Linked DNA regions of Homo sapiens: region 2 is linked to region 1. Evidence: fine-mapped expression QTL. A gene starts in region 1. The other region holds a variant in brackets. All regions are shown on one strand. Distances are between the middles of the regions. Region 1 holds the start of OLFML3 (olfactomedin like 3). Region 2 overlaps SYT6 (synaptotagmin 6).

What was found. PIP is the estimated chance that this variant, and not a neighbour inherited with it, causes the effect.
Region 2: its variant is the best candidate, but not a certain one, in a credible set for the expression of OLFML3 in whole blood (TOPMed, PIP 0.62).

What each region holds. Positions count from the first base shown.
Region 1 is chr1:113,977,858-113,980,769 of GRCh38, reverse strand. OLFML3 (olfactomedin like 3) reads right to left here and starts at 1,296. Exons shown (of 3, transcript NM_020190.5): 1 at 1,140-1,296; 2 at 153-438. The coding sequence starts at 1,253. HIPK1 (homeodomain interacting protein kinase 1) reads right to left here. Exons shown (of 16, transcript NM_198268.3): 16 at 2,901-2,912. RefSeq lists an enhancer at 1,219-2,052.
Region 2 is chr1:114,130,548-114,133,459 of GRCh38, reverse strand. All of the region lies in intron 3 of SYT6 (synaptotagmin 6), which reads left to right. Among named protein-coding and RNA genes, the nearest start is that of SYT6, 22 kb to the left of the region's middle. The variant G/C (reference allele first, on the strand shown) is at 1,496.

The DNA of each region.
Region 1 (2,912 bases):
TAATAGACCTGGCATTACAGAGGTTTCCCTAAAACAGATTCCAGAAGACAGAGCCACAATGGACTGGGACAAAGCGAAAAAAAGAGTAAGAAGCAAGGAAGGAAGAATATCGGTTCTGAGAAGAGTTAGGGGCCTGCTTTCAGATTATTTACCTGTCACCATATCGTACTTCTCATTCCTTCTTCCCTTGCCTTTGGTCCCAGGGCCTCCAGTCACCTTCTCATCAAACTCTACACAGGGCAGAGCTGGGTTCTGGGTCTCCAGATAGTCTACCTCCCGCTCCAGACGATCCACTCTCCCGGAGATGGTGTCGGCCTCAGTTCTGAGTGCCTCCCGCTCCTTCTCTGCCACCTCCAGCAGTGGCAGCATCTTGTTCTTGAAGTCCCGCAGCTCAGCAGCATGCCGACTACTCTGGTCCTGGCACTGGGCCAGCCGTTCCTGAAGGGATGGGGGATCAGGAGGGAGGCTGCAGGGTTACAACTCCCAGGCAGGGAGAGGCCCAACTCGGGAGTCAGGAATGGGAAAAAAAGAGCAAACTCAGCCAGGCTTCAATATCCCCTTCCACTCCTGCAGAAAAGGAAACCAGATGTGCAGAGGTGCTAAATGTGCAAAGAGCCTAGCTGAGATTCACCTAGGCCCCTACCCCGACTCCATGTCCTCCAGCCTGTGTTCTCTGTGAGCAGTGCCACTGAGCCATCTGAGCCTCTAGGCAGGTCTAAGCGCATGAAGGTGTGAAGAGGTCTCTGCTCCCTTAGCAATTATCCTCTCGGACACTAAAATGCTACGGATCTCAACCTGTTAAAAAGACAGGAAGTTATAGATTCCCCGGGAACCTCCAACTTCAACAGAATCATCACCTTCTCTGGAGATGCAGCCCCACAATTTTGGCTCTCGTTTCCACTCTGCCCCCTTATTCTATCTAATCCCAGAGGTAAAACGCAAAAGTCGATTTGCTTTGGAATTGTTCTATGTGGGGTAAGAGGAGGGCTTGTCATTCCGAAGGTCCTCTTATTAAGAGAGAATTTTCTGTAGACTCTAACAGAGCCCTTTCTTGTTATCCCCAGATCCCTAACAAACTGGTTGAACCAATAGCCCTGGAATCCTTCTAGGCGGGGCTAGAAGAGAAAGGGGTCCCTCACCTCTAAAGCAGCTAGTCGGCGTTCCATGTACTCCACAAGGTGGTGCTGCTGTCCTTGGAGGGGTCCCGACCATGACAAAAGGAACAAGATGAGGAGAGGGGTGCTGGGCCCCATGGCAGCCTGGAGAGTGGTGCCAGAGTAGAAGGAACGTACAGTCAGCCTCTTCCCCTCAAGCCCGAGGGTTAGCTTTGGAGGCGGGGTGGGGGCGGTGCCTTCTCTCCTGATCTCTGGGTCTCTCTCACTACTCTGGAATGCTTTCAGTTCTCTTTACAACCCCCACCCCCTCCTTTCCGCCAGGATTGATCAAACACAGATGGCCCCATTGCACAGCAGCCAGAAGCCTTAACCACCTCCCGCCTAGGCTGTAGGGTCCTCTGGAGGGGAAAGAGATGGAAACCCGAAAGCAGAGGCCTTCTAGGCAGTCAAGCAGGGAAGCTAGCTGCAGAAAGCAGAGACCCCAGAGAAAACTCAGCAAACGCCATTCCTGTTTTAGGAAAGTTTCACCAGTGCTGACTTAAGAAACTGACATTTTTCATTAATCTTTCCCTTTCCCTGCAATAGAGTGGGTTTTCAGCCTTGTTCAGTAGAAGCTGGGAGCTGGGGAGGTGAGGCTTGAAGGGAGGAAGCAGGAAAACAATGGCCCAAGTGGTCAAGCCCAACTTATTCTAAAGCTCATTGGCGCCACCTTGTGCTAAGCAGCTGGTGTCATCTCTCATGATAATACAGAAACTAAGGCTTAGACTTCACCCCATGAGGAAAATTTTCCACAAAAGCCAAATATATTGAATTTACAGGGGTTTTCACCACTGAAATGCATATTTCCCCCAAGACTATCCAATTACTACTTTGGGGGCTATGCAAATATCTGATTTAGCCCAAGGAAGAAAATATAACTGAGATTAAAAAAAAAAAAAAAACAGGTCACTGAGAAGTTAGTAAATTAACTCGATCGTCTGGAAGTTAAGGCTGACAGCAGCGCTGTTTTACATGGCTTTCCTTTGCTTGAAAGAGGCCAGATATAGTCTCTCACCAAAACTGAGGAGTGTTCAGTGAGTTCACACTAATTTACTATACATTCATGTATTGCGGGGGGGCGGAATCTGATATATATATATATGTTGTTGCAGTCTAGATCAATGTATTCTGACTTCCTTACCACTGGGAGAAAAGACTATTGGTTATTTCTCTTGGTTGTGGTCCAAAAGGGTATTTCTGAGTGTTTCTCATTTCTATATCCCAACTAAGGCTGCAGGAGCCCAAAATGAATTAATGGCCACCATAAGGTAGACTTGGGCCATAAGGTAGACACACGGGCCGAAAAAAAAAATCAAATAGAGCATTTACTCAGAGACCTGCAGTCATTAATCGAAACAAACCCCTATTTCTTTATCGGGAGAAATTCTATTCACTTTAGAATCAACAGAATCTGATGAGAGGTTCCTTCTGTAAAAAGGACCATGACTCTAACAGTACAGTTTGAAAGGAGGGGAAAAATAGCAGCTTCCTGTGGTTACTCATCTTTTCATTCTGCTACTGCTATCTGGCAAAACATATGAGGAAACAAAGCTTAATTAGCCGGTCTCAGAAGTCTTCTACCTCTTTCAAAGGGTCAGATCCAGATGATGTGAAGTAAGGACCCTGGACACTGCATTCTTGGGAAGTATTCCCTGCCAAACCCTATTCATTTCCAGTATGGAGATTTGTGTGAAGAATGAAATTGTCTCTAGTACTCTACTGATGTTCAAATACAATATGCTTAGCCACTTTCAAAGA
Region 2 (2,912 bases), 150 kb before region 1:
TCTAAATAAAGCTGTAGATTTATCATTATAATAGAGCTGCCGTCACCCGGGTTTGCTAACATCTCTAATCTTGTAGTTATTGCTACAGAGGACTCAGACCCCACCGCACACAACTATTCCTGTCGCTATTCCCTCTCCTTCACTGTGGCAGGAGACAAAGGCTGTAACTGGGGCCATAAATATGTGCTGTGCTTGGTAATGCTAATGGATTCGGCCATCTTCCTGCCTTACCAGGTCCCTACTAGTTTAGAGTATGCGTGTGTGTGTGTGCATGTGTGTTGTTTTTGGACTAGGATAGAGTGTGTGTGTGCATGCATGTGTATGTGCGTGGGCATGCATTTGTGTGTGTGTGTGTTTTAGGGGTGATGAAGTGTTCCATATACTTCCAGAGAGCCTGGACTGAGGGTATGCAGGGAGGAAGGGAGGCCTTAAATGGTAGAATAGCCTCTGGCTTGGAAATGAGCAGAGTTGTGCAGAAGGAGTGCAGGCTTTATTGTCAACCCAACCTGAATTGCATTCTAGCTTCCTTACTTTCTAGCTTTAAAACCTTGGGACATTATCTAAACTGTGCCTCAGGTTTGACATCAGCAAGATGGGGATTAATAATGGCTTCTAGTCCTATTGTTATTATATGTAGTAAATGAAACAGAGTACACAGCCACCCAGGACAGCACTGTCACAGAGCAGCTTGCTGAGCCCTATTCCTCTGGTGCCCTTCCTGCTGGCTTAGCCCATGTGTCACTTCTGTACCACTCCCAGGCCTGACCTTCCCCTTCAGTCCAGGTCATCTGTTCTGACTGGTTGTTGGACATTATTATTCATTTTTTATTTCTTGTCTTGGCTATGCCATGTGTTTTCTGTGTGACCTTGAAAAAGTGACTTTCCATCTCTGGGCTGCATTTTCCTCAGTATTAAACCATCTCTAGAATCCTGTAATTCTCAGCTTCTCCCATGGAGAAGTTCTTGGCTCTCATGCTTTCACAGAACAGAGCTACCCATTCTCCGGGAGTGTGGTCTCCACAGCAGAGGCCGAAACCCCACAGTGATAAGCCACTGGGCAGAATTTCCAGACATCCCCACTCTTTCCTTAAATATCAAAGAGTCAGGCCTCTCTTCAAGCCCGTGGGGAATGTCCTCTAGGAGGTTTCTGCCACAGGGGAGGCCCCATCAACAACCCTTCCTCCTCTTTTTCCCATGAGCCACATTCCTATGCTGGCACTCAGCTCCCTCCCTTCCATCTCCTTTCTGATCCCCATTTACTGGGATGCGCTGGTCATTACTTATTGAGCTCCTGCTAGCTGCCAAGGGCACAACCTGCTTTGCCATGTTTCATCCTCACCACAACACTTATGGTCATCCCCCATATGTAAATAAACAAACGAAGGTTTGAGGTTAGGTGACTTACCCATTGTCACCCAAACAGAAATAATAAAGCCAAGATTTGAACTCATGATCCTTGCACCGCCAGAGGGAAGCATGGTTACATTGTTTCTTG[G/C]GACAGAAAATAAACACTGAAATTGTGCAGCTCATCAGGGGATCCAGAAGAGTGTTTTGTTCTGTTTTTTCTTTGTGGACTTGTTAGGTTCTCTCACTCATCTCAAAATCTGGTCATTTCTGGGAGTGGGTTTGGTGCTGACATTGGATTCCTTTACCCTTTCCCCCATTTCCTTTCTGTGAGCAGTGGGTTTGACATTGTTTCTTTTTAGTTTAATAGCTATTCATTGAATGCTGACTATGTGCCGGTCAGTGCATCATTGGGCACTTGTTGAATGCAGAGCCATGGGCTGGGCTATGGAAAGGAAGGTAAAGCAAGAGCCCTCCATATCAGGGTGCCCAGGCTGACAAGGACTGTAGGGGATGCCCTGTGCCCCCAAGTCCCCAAGCCCCTCATACACAAGGCACACACCTGGGGACAGACCAGTTCAGGATGCTTACAACACAATTATGCAAGCTGCTGCACTGCAAGAGATGTGCAGAAGTGTTAGGAGACATGAAGAAAAGAAATCAGAGTCAGATGAGATTGCTCTAGAAAAGCTGCTTCTAGAAAAGAAAAGTTTTAGGCCAGGCTATGTTGATGACAGTGAAGGACAGAGCATGATAAAAGAGGAAGTCAGAGGAGGGCGAGTATGTTCCTCTGTTCTCTTTGGACTTGGGGAAGGATCTAGAGAGATTTTCTCTCACATAAGATTGGGTTTCTTTTCTTTGTATAATAACTACTTGCAGAGTAATTACTATGTACCAGGCACCAGGCTGGGAATATGACTTCAACTCCAGTCCTGCCCTCAAGACCTCGCAGTCTGATGGGGGAGGCAGGAAACCAGTTCTGCTGTCTTGGGGACATGCAGGTCCCTCACTGGCCCAGCATGTTGGGGGAAGGCAGGCCTCCTGAAATGAAATTGCTTGCTTGCTTGAAAAAAATTTCAGTTGCATCCTCTTCTCACGCCCACACACTCAAGTCGAATGAGATCCCAGAGTGGCCACAAAAGGCTTTTTCAAGTAGAGCCAAAGAATCAGCTAATTGATCCACTGTGACTCATTAAATCACCCGGGGGTGAAGCCTCCCAAAGCCTCATTGACTAGCAGTTTGAGACAACGCCTTCGAAGTGTCCATCTTGGATCTCAGGTTTCTAGGTCTGTCCTGGGCAGGAGTAAGAGGTAAGCATATTGAATCTTCATCCACTAAGCAGGTCTTCAACGAGCCCTCAAAGAACATACTTGGGTCCTAGAACAACTAACTGGGTATTGAAGGGGCAAACATAGTCCTTGCTTTCAAGGAACTCACAGTTGAACAGAGGTTTCAGAGCAAGTAAAAAGCTAATGAAAGGAACACAATTATTTACATTACATTAAAAGGAAAAAGGGGAGATGGAGGTGAGTATTGAAGCGAGGAGAGTGAGTGAGTGGGATGAGGG